Linked DNA regions of Homo sapiens: region 1 is linked to region 2. The links come from fine-mapping of genetic effects on gene expression. A gene starts in region 2. The other region holds a variant in brackets. All regions are shown on one strand. Distances are between the middles of the regions.

The links. PIP is the estimated chance that this variant, and not a neighbour inherited with it, causes the effect.
Region 1: its variant is the best candidate, but not a certain one, in a credible set for the expression of SASH3 in whole blood (GTEx, PIP 0.67).

What each region holds. Positions count from the first base shown.
Region 1 is chrX:129,748,725-129,754,095 of GRCh38, reverse strand. It overlaps XPNPEP2 (X-prolyl aminopeptidase 2), which reads right to left. Exons shown (of 21, transcript NM_003399.6): 8 at 3,527-3,628; 9 at 2,270-2,351; 10 at 1,751-1,946; 11 at 848-937. Among named protein-coding and RNA genes, the nearest start is that of XPNPEP2, 12 kb to the right of the region's middle. The variant T/C (reference allele first, on the strand shown) is at 2,943.
Region 2 is chrX:129,776,788-129,782,158 of GRCh38, reverse strand. SASH3 (SAM and SH3 domain containing 3) reads right to left here and starts at 2,210. Exons shown (of 8, transcript NM_018990.4): 1 at 2,005-2,210. The coding sequence starts at 2,061. It overlaps LOC124905215 (a long non-coding RNA gene), which reads left to right. Exons shown (of 2, transcript XR_007068328.1): 2 at 1,880-3,584. RefSeq lists enhancers at 253-302, 413-592, 1,860-1,919, 1,970-2,049, 2,300-2,459 and 1 more.

The DNA.
Region 1 (5,371 bases), 28 kb after region 2:
TGTGTTTAAAATTTCCTATGAGACAAAGTTTTTTTTAAATGAGGTGGTTTATCTTAATTTTAACAAGAATTCTTTTTTAAAAATTGAGCCATCCTCTTGCCAGTGTGAGGAAATCATTATAGCTAACACTTATTTAACACTTAGAATGTGCTAGGTGGTGCTCAGAGCAATATACATATTCATTGAATTCTCACAACAACCATATGCTGTAAGATTACTGTTATGATCCTCATTTTACAGATGGGGTAACTGAGGCCCAGAGAGGTAAAATGACTTGGTCAAGGTCACCCAGTTAGGAATTGGGTGGAGCTGTGGTTTGAACTCAAGGCACCCTAGCTCCAGGGCCTGTGCTCTAAACCACTGTACTATATTGGGGGCAAGGATATGAGGTGCATGTGGGCGCCCAGGAATAATTTGGTGTCTGCTTCTTTATTTCTTTTTCTTTCTTTCTTTCTTTTTTTTTGACCTAGTCTCGCCCAGGCTGGAGTGCAGTGGCATGATCTCAGCTCATTGCAACCTCTACTTCCCAGGTTCAAGCGATTCTCGTGCCTCAGCCTCCTGAGTAGCTGGGACTACAGGTGATCGCCACCACGCCTGGCTAATTTTTGTATTTTTAGTAGAGACAGGGCTTCACCATGTTGGCCAGGCTGCTCTCGGACTCCTGAGCTCAAGCAATCCTCTCACCTTGGCCTCCCAAAGTGCTAGGATTACAGGCGTGAGCCACCGCGCCCAGCTTGCTTCTTTGTTTCATTGAGGGTCTTCTTCAGGCTCTTCTGGAGGCCTTTCCTTTCTAACTCATTAGGCTGGATACTCCCAAAAGGCCATGTCTGCCTGAACGTGGACTTACGTGGCTGGCCTTGAGGAGGGCCTGCTCCTTGCTGTTCTTCACTGCCTTGGTCATCATCACTGGGGAGTAGGTGTCTGTCACGAGTTTCTCCTGTTGGGGGCAGGGAGGAGAAAAGGAGGTCTGGGGGCACAGGTCTGGGGGCACAGTAAAGGAGGTCTCCATGGCACAGGGGTGTTTTCAGAGGACTGGCAGGAGGACCCAGCAGACGTGAGATTTGCCACCATTTCGTGGCAATGCTCTCTACTCTGTGTGTGCTTTCTGTCTTTCCTAGTTTTCCACGTCCAGCTGAACCCTCTCTCCTTCCAGGAAGGCTTCCTTGATTGACACTGCCTTGCTTGGCAATGAACTCCCTGTCTTCGGATCCCACCAGCACTCTGGGATGGATCAGAGTCTGGCCTGAGTCACTCGACAGGCTGTCCTGACAGTGTAAGTTTCCTGTACATATCATGACAGCTACCATTTATTGGACACTACCATGTGTCAGTCATATACACTATCTCCTTTAGATCTCCACTGAGCGACTCCTGCGAGGTCAGGACTCTTATTGCCATTTTATAGGTGAAGAAAAAGACCCAGATTGGCTAAGTTGCTTGTCCAAAGTCACTGCACAGCTAGTTAGGGACAGAGCTGGAATTCATTTTCAAGTTTGGCTGACTCCAAAGTCTCTGCTAGATCAGGCCGTATACTCTCCAGCCTCCTGACAATTTTATGAGCTCTCTGGATGGCCATCCCTGTTTCCTCTTCTGGCTCTTCCCAGTTAGGCCAAGAAGGGAACTCACTGCACAGTTGTTGGCTGACCAGATGACTGAATGGCTGAGGGGCTTCACCTCACTTTAGGTTAAGACTTCTCAGGCCTAGAGTGGGGATTGGTGCCTGGCTTGGGCTGGGGCCTGGCAAACCCACCTTGGGTATCATTTCATAGATCCCATACATGGTATAGCTGGTCCCAATCCAGATCCTCACATCTCCCAATGAGTAGGCCTGGATGCTGTCACGAACTTGGCTGTAATCCTCGATTTGCACACACATGGGGCCTGTGCAACTGGAGTTCAGATAGCTCAAGGTTTCGGAGCTAAAGCGACTCTTGTTTGCAAACAACCTGGGTGGGGTGGGAAGACAAGGAGGGTCCTGAGCATCTGCTAAGGATGCAAAGGACCAGAGGCAGTCACAGTCCCTCTGTTCCTGGAGGTCAAAGGAAGCCAGCCCCAGGGAGCCAAGCAGGCCAGATTTGGGATTCAATAGGGACAGAGGTTTAAAGAGTCAGGAAAAGACAACAGGGGGTTTTCTAAAGGGTCGTGCTGCAGCAGGCGCCGAGCTGATGGGCAGCCAGAGGGCTGTATATTAAGGCGGGATCAGTGGTGGGGCATCAAGAGGGTGGAAGTTGGAGAAAGTCCACAACAGCAAGCTAAGGAAAAGCCATACCTAATAGAAGAGTCTGTGAGCAGCGTGTAGGAATAGAAGAAGGGGTTATAGGGGATGTCACTGGCTCGAAGGTTGAAGAGCCCTGGGAAGAGAATTGACAAGGAATATTTAATGCTGATCTGCCTGAGGCAAGCTTTTCTTTTCCTCTTTTTTTCCTTTCCTTCCTTCCTTCTTTCCTTCCTCCCTTCCTTCCTTCCTTCCTTCCTTCCTTCCTTCCTTCCTTCCTTCCTTTCTTTCTTTCTTTCTTTCTTTCTTTCTTTCTTTCTTTCTTTCTTTCTTTCTTTCTTTCTTCCTTTCTTTCTTTTTCTTTCTTTTCTTTCTTTTTTGACAGTATCTTGCTCTGTCACCCAGGCTGGAGTGCAGTGGCAAGATCTCACTGCAATCTCCACCTCGCAGGTTCAAGCAAGTCTCCTGCCTCAGCCTCCCAGGTAGCTGGGTTTGCAGATGCCTGCCACCATGCCCAGCTAATTTTTGTATTTTTAGTAGAGACGGCGTTTCAACATGTTGGTCAGGCTGGTCTTGAACTCCTGACTTCAGGTGATCCGCCCACCTTGGCCTCCCAAAGTGCTGGGATTACAGGCGTGAGTCACCGCACCCGGCCAGAGGCAAGCATTTCTGACACTTTTGCCCCACTGTTTCCTTTGGCCTCCAAAGATTACCAACAGCATGCTTG[T/C]ATCATCTACCTCTGCATGTTACTCAATCTTTTTGCCGGGGGGGGGGGGTGGGGGAGTGGGCGTCTTTGAGATGCTGTTGAGAGTTATGGATCTTTTCCCCCCAGAAAAATGCAGATACTTAGCAGTCAGCACACAGTTCCAGTGGGTCCCTGGAATATCTGAAGCCCAGCCATAGGGATCAGACAAGAAGTCCTGAGCCATGTCGGAAAGAGTAGAGTCCCACTGGGTGCTAAAGCTGGGAGTGTGAGTGCCCTGGGGTAGTGGCTAAGTTGTTGGGAGGCATTTCCTGGTCCTCCTCCCCTTAGTGGGACAGAAGCACTTTGCTGCCATAGTCAGTTCGTTCCTCTGGTGGCCTGTGGGCTGGTCCCAGCTTGCTCAGGGCTACCTTTTGTCCTTTTTCTGAAGCCATGAGCTCCTGCCCCCTTACCCTTCTTGGTTCCCACGGGCTGTGGCCATGGAGTTCTCAAGAATTGGTGGGCACATGGTTATTTGGGGAAGAGCTAGCTCTGTGCTGCAGGGCCCGGGAGGCTTGGGGCATTGGGGAGACCCAGGCGCCCACCCATGTCTGCAAATCCACACTCACAGGCCGTCTCCTCAAGCGCCGACAGAAGGACGGCAGTCGGGACCTTTTGATGCTTCTGCATCTGGCTTCGGACGCCAGATACTTTCTCCTGCCAAGTGCTCCCTAGAAGCAAAGGAGCCCCAAAAAAGTGTAAGTGACAGACCTTGCCTTTGGCACTCGGTTCCTGGAAGGTCAGCCTTAGGGTAACAGTTTTGCATCCTCTTAAAAAGCAGCGAAACCCTTTCCTCAAACAAACTCTTACTTGTGTACTCATTAATGACATGGGCCCTGGACCCAGATGGGGCTCAAATCCTGGCTTTGCCATTACTGGATGGGTGACCTTGGGCAAATTACCTAACCCCTCTGTGTTCCATTTTGCACATTTGTAAAATGGGGATGGAGTATAATAAGCATCTGCCTCAATAGGGCTGCTATGAGGATGGAATGAATTAATATTTGTAAAGCACACAGAATGGTATCTTGAGATGTAGTAACTCTTGTATCTTTCTGATTAATAAATAATCATGCAGACTGAGATCAAGAGAGCAGTCCTAGTTGAAGGACAAAGGGGTAGGGCTGGGGCCGTGTTCAACTTTCTCTGCAGTAACCCCAGTATTTACTAAGCCACGGGTACTGGGCTAAGCACTCCATGTGCATTGTTCTAATTCTTACCCATCCCATTTTACAGATAAGGAAACTGAGGCTTCAGAGAGGTAAAGTGACTTGTCTAGGGTTTCATGGATGCAAGAGGTAGAGCTGGGATTTGAACTCTGGTCTGTCTGACTGCATGGCCCACGCTCTTAATCTGTACAGACACCGTACTGTCTTGATAACATTCTCAGTCTCCAAATCTGTCCTTAAACTCTGTGTCACAGCACCGTCCTTTCTCAGATGCTTATATCTGGGTTCTATGACTTTAGTTTTCATCTTCTATCCCTGCCCCCTGCAAGATATTCAAAGAGTCTACCCCTAGGCAGGACTAGGAGTTTGCTGGCCGAAGGCCATAAACATTAAGGGTCCTAGTTGGGTTCAGATATGAGCATAAATAACTTAATGTCGTGAAAAATATTTCATGTGAACAGGTAAAACTATTCAACAATGACCAAAGCTTTGGGTACAATACATTTTTGTAGGTTTATTTTACTACATATTTTACACATAATTTATGTTATGTGTATTTTACACATAACATAAAACATATCATTTTAATCTTTTTAAAGTGCACAATTCAGTGGCTTTCAGCATACTCACAATGTTGTGCAACCATCGCCACGATCTAATTCTAGAACATTTTCTTCATCCCCAAAGGAAACCCTGTACTCACTAAGGAGTCACTCCCTATCCCCCCTCCCCTGAGCCCCAGGAAATCCCTAATCTATTTTCTGTCTCTATGGATTTGCCAGTGCTGGATATTTCATACAAATGGAATTGTACAATATGTGGCCTTCTCTGACTGGCTTCTTTCACTTGCAATTATGTTTTCAAGGTTCAGGAATATGATACCTTTCTGAGAAACCAAATGAACCCAAATTTCAATGGTCTGGTGCGTACAGGTATGTTTGAGTAGCGAACTTTTCATGTTCTGCCCTTTGCACTCTCCTTTCTCCTTTAAAATCTGCAAGTGGCTGGAAAGTCTCTCTCGTCTTTATAAGCTTATTGAAGCTGAACTCTGTTCTTCGGCTTCCAAACTCAAGCTCCAGGTGCCTTTTTCTTGAAGACTGGCAGCGGGTGATGACTCGGCATCCCCTCACTTTTGGGAAGTGACAAAACCCTTCCAGCCCCAGGAAGGTTTTTCTTTTTTCCCTTCCCCTTCCCGACATAACTTTGACTTTCTTTATCTGAATAAGATGAGTTTTATTTATGATT
Region 2 (5,371 bases):
AATGAGCTGTCCAAGGTCCTACAGCTAGAGCGTGGTAGGATTCCAGCTCAGCTTTCTTGCCCCCTGTCTGGCACATTCTCCATTGGCAGGCCCAAGAGGAGAAGCAGGGGCAGGAGAAAGAGGCCTCTCTTGCCTTTGTGCTTTCCTCTCCACCACGTCATCTCAGCCTCTGAGAAGAAGGGACTAGCAGTGATTCAGCCAGCCCGCTGCCTCTGGGCCTGGGGAAGATGCTCTGTACCTTCTGGAAGCTTGGCTTCTGGGGGACATTTCCATAGTCTGGGGCTAGCAGAGTGTGTGGAGGCAAGCTCATCCCAGCTCTGGAGGCTGGCACCGGCTCTGGCAGGGGTTGGGGTGGGGTTTGCCTGGACTACTCTCCCCGAAAGGACCCCTTCTCCTGGGAGAGACCTGGGGAAATCCCAGGGGCCCACTTGCCTGCCGAACACAGAATCTGGGTAATTGAAGCTGGGAAAGAAAAAGGGGACTTCTGGCTTCTGTGTGCCCCTAGGTACGTCTTCCTGATGTGGCACAGGGTCCCAGTGTCAAAGTGTCAGCTCTTTCTCACACTTTCCTCCAGCTCAGCGCCCCTGTGGTTTGAGGCCTAGCAGTGTCTATAGAGCAATCTCTGTTTCCCACCCCCACCAGCCAGAGAGCAAGGGGAAGTGGCCCTGCTCTCTTAGGAGTGGCAGCCAATGGCAGTCCTGCTGGGCCTAGCACCCTGCAGGGTTTGGACGGGGATGACAGAGCCCGTGTGAAGATTCATGAACCTCCCCCCTCCCCCGCCCACCACCACTGCAACCTTAGAGAAGCAGCTGGGGTGGGGAGAATACAGCCGGAAGTGGCAGCCACCCCAGGACCTGAGAGCTGGGGCAGGATGCACACCCCACTGCCCCGAGTCTCAGTCTTTCAGCTGCCTTGGCCTCCATCTCTGAGCTACTCCCCTGACAAGGGGGATCCACCATAGGGCACCTGGGCTGAGTTCCAGGGAAAATTGGCGGGGGATAGCCTGGGCCTCTTGGACCTAGTTCAGGCCTGCTTTGGGACTGTCCTAGCATCCCATTGGATGTGTAGGATATACTTGCTGATTGTCTGGGAGAATCCTTCAATTGAATTAAAGAATTAGGTCTAGAAATCCTCAAACCCAACCAAAGAAATCTGGAAATCCTCAAATTCAACCACAAAATCCTAGATCTGGCACAGCCTTCAAGGATTCTTCCAGTCCGGTCTCTGCCCCAGGGGGATGAACACCTCAGCCATCCATGACAGCTGTTTTTCCTCCTGGCCTTTAAAATCCTCCCTCCTCAGCCTTCACTCCTACTCACCACCTCAACTTAATTTCTCATTCCCCACCCAGGAAGAACCTGTATGCCCCCTGCATCCCACTGCACTTCCGGATGCCTTTTCCCCCAAGACTGGAATGGCCTCAGGCCCCCATCTCCAGGTTGGCTCCATCTCGGGTAGGGCCTGGGAGCTACCACAGAGCTGAGCCAAGTGGGCAGGGTCTGGGCCATGGCCAAAGTGGAGGAGGGGGTGGCAGTCCTGTGAGCATCATGGCTCCAAGCTGGGCAGCCCAGCAGGGCCCTTTGAGTGAGATGGCTCCTGAGAGGCCGTGGCCGGGGCAGAAGTGGCAGCAGGACCAGCGTAGAGGAGAGATAGTTAAGTACAAGCTTAGGGTTCAGCTTAAGCATTGTATTTTGTTATTCTCAAATTCTAGTCTAAGATTCTGGCCCCTAATTTTAGATCTTTTTTCCCATTCTTCTAGGGTTGAATTGCATGACTCTAGATTTCTAAGGATCTATTCTGTAACTCTGTTGCTCCAGAATTTTAAACATCTCTTCTGTACTTCTGTTAACCTTTGGGTCCCTGTCCCGTTGCCTTCTAGGTGAGTGGCCCTCACCTACAGACTCAACATATGGCCTTTGGCTCTTCCCACTTCCAAGAGTCTTGGAAGGGATGGGTCGAGCAAGCAGAGGAAAGGAAGATGTGAGTTCCCAAAATGCTCCTCACCTTTTTCTTCTGAGTGGGCTCCTTCTCACTGGCATTGGAGGGCTTGCGGCGCAGCATGGTCCTCCACCCTGGGAGACTCCGTCCCTGCTCTCCTAGGTGTCAAGATGCAGAGGCCTCTTGCTTAGCCTCACCAGAACTGCCCGGGGGCACGGCATGAACCGAGCCTTCAGCTGCCACTCTGACTGCTGCAGTGGCAGCTTGGGGGTGCGGGCCATGGACACCCGGCAGCAGCAGCATACAGGAAGCCCTGCCACGTGACCTACTCTTACAGCAATCGCAGCCCCTGCCGGCCCCTAGGGAGGAAGGAAGTCCAAGCTTCAGTCTCCAGAGATTCTGATGCAGACGGCTCTTGGGTTGAACAGTCAGAGAAAGTCCCTACCTTGTTGTCTCATGTCGATCATCATCAGTCCTTCTGCTCCATCTTCCTAGAGGTGGACAATCAGCTCGACATTATATGGCGTACCCAAGCCCTTTATCTCACTGACCAGAATCCAGAAACCAGAAGTTGGACCATCTGGCTGCCTGTTGGATCAATGCTCCCGGTCAACTCACGTCTTCAAGGTCGTCACTGCCATCACTACCACTACCATCACCCCTGTGACCATCACCACTGCTACCATCACTCCTATCAATAGCCATCACCATACAGCCATCACCCCTACAGCCATCAGGCCTGCAGCCATCCCCGCTGCCATCAGCACACCTATAGCCATTGTCACTATGGTAATCACCTCTACAGTTGACATCCTTCAGCCATCACCTCTACAGTCATCACCATTGCTGCTATCACCCTTCCAGCCATCATCCTTACAGCTGTCACCCTTCTGGACATTACAGCCAACCGCACTCATGACCCTCTCACCCCTATAACCATCGTCCCTACAGTCATCTCTCCTACAACCATCATCACATCCGTGCAGCCATCAGCCCTGCAGCCATCACTCCTACAGCCATCAGTACACCTAAAGCCATCATCACTAGAGCAGTCACCCCTCCAGTCAGTACCCCTCAGCCATCATGAGTATATTTATCACCACCACAGCTGAAAAGCACTTACAGCCAACTCCACACCTCTAGCAAGTATCCAACAGGCATTTATCAAACACCTATGCAGTATATTCAATTTGTGGGTTGTCTGTGGCAGATTTTAATAACTTTAATAACTTCTTGGTATTACAAAAGCAACTTGTATTTGTCATACAATTTCACAAACACATAAACAAAAAAAATTTCAAAATTTCCCATCATTGTCCTCTACACTGTTTTAAGCATCTATCTACTCTCTGTCTATAAACATTTTTTTTCTTTTTACAAAAATCATACTGCTCAGAAAACAGATAATTGGTTTGGGGAGAAGGGGAGGGGAGAGAAGGGAAGGGAGACATCACACAGGGTAACAGGAAGCTTTTAGGAGTGATGAATATGTTCACTATCTTGACTGTGGTGATGATTTCATGGGGGAATACACATGTCAAAACGTATCAAATTGTATACTTCAAATATGTGCAGTTTATTGTAGCTCCATTATACCTCAATAAAGCTGTTTAAAATTTTTTAATTAAAAAAGGTCATAATTCACACTATTGGTGTCTGCTTTTCACACTAAACACAGTATCTTTTTTGTTTTTTTTTCGAGATGGAGTCTCTCACTCTGTCTCCCAGGCTGGAGTGCAGTGGCGTGATCTCGGCTCACTGCAACCTCCACCTCCTGAGTTCAAGCAATTCTTGTGCCTCTGCCTCCCAAGTAGCTGGGACTATAGGTGCGTACCACCACCCTGGTTAATTTTTGTATTTTTTGTAGAGACAGGGTTTCACCATGTTGCCCAGGCTGGTCTTGAACTCCTGGTCTCAAGTGACCTCTTTGCCTCATCCTCCCAAAGTGCTGGGATTACAGGCGTGAGCCACTACGTCCAGCTGAACACAGTATCAAGATTGTCTCATGCTATGAAATAGTCTTCAACTACGTAATTTATAACGGCTGTGGAACATCCCATTGTGTGGATGTGCCGTGCTTATTTCACCAAGCCCTTGCTGATGAACTTGGGTTGGCTTAAATTTTTAAATTATTCATTGAACATACTTATGGTAAATATTCACATCCATAGTTTTTTTTCTGTAGGGGAAATATCCAGAAGAGGAATTGCTGGGGTCAAAGGTATGCACATTTTTAAGGCTTTCAATTCTGTGGTACTTGTGAAATACTAGGCTTGTCCACCCCTGTTCCCAAGATGTTCTCGTGACTTCCTCTCCGATTCTGCTTTATGCCCTCTGACCATCCAACCTTCAGGGTGAGCTCAGGGAAGATAAGATCTTTCTTCCCTAAGCTGAAACCATACATTCTTTGGCCTACTCAGTCGGCCAGGCAGACTCATGAAAAGATTCCACACCCCAGATCTCCTTCCCACTGGCCTGTGTTTTCCACCCTGAAAGTCCCTCCCAGGCGGCCCAGGGTCACTAGCAAGCGCGGTAACTGGTTAAGGCTTTTCGGCATATACAGTAGCCTGGCAGCCGTGTAGGGGACCCATCGGGCCTTTGGGGCTCTGCGTGACCAGGAGCAGGAGGGCAGCCCCAGAGGGTTCTGGGATTGGGGACGCCGCTGTAGTGGCCTGGGGCACCTGGAGCCAGAGCCGTGAGGGAGGAAGCAGGTCGCAGAATCTTCCGGGCCTGCGCAGCGGCTGCGTCCCTGGCCGCCTCGCAGGATGTGCCCGCTTCCTGTTTGCTCAGCGCCGGCAGCGACAGAAGATCACACACTAACCGCAGAACCTTCAAAGGCGGCCAGCAAACCAGGGCACAGGGCTGGCGAGGCTTGGGAAAAGGCAGCGAGAGGGAGGTGAGGGTGCCTTGGAGAGAAATATGGAGAGGTGACCAGCTCCCAGGACAGAAGGGAGCAAGTGTTTTCAACGGCTTCCTTCGTTCTCCTTTTCAGATCTGTCTCCTCTGTTCAGGAACACCTCCTCCCCGCCACCTGGGGACCGGGGCCAGTGGAGGCGGGGTGTCCAGGACCCCCCATCGGGACTTGCCTTCCCCCAGCTTTTCTCTTCCAACAGATTGCCCTGGCTGAATCCCAATAGGCCAGGTCCTTGCTGGCTAATGACCCTTAAACATGTGTTTAATAGATTTTCCCTTCTGGGTAACATATTTGCATTTTACAGGTTATGTTGTTTGAGGTACGCAGAGCTCTCAGCTAAGGAAGTGATACGAGTCAGTAGTTCAGGGAACAAGGTCACCTTAAACTTGATAATGGGCCGGCAGGCAGAACCTAGGAACTTGCTGTGGGCACAGCCTTGTGCTAGGCCTCGGGAGGAGGTACAAAATAAATAGCCATCAGGGCCCCTTGTACCTGGGAGCTGACATCCTAGGTGGAGTG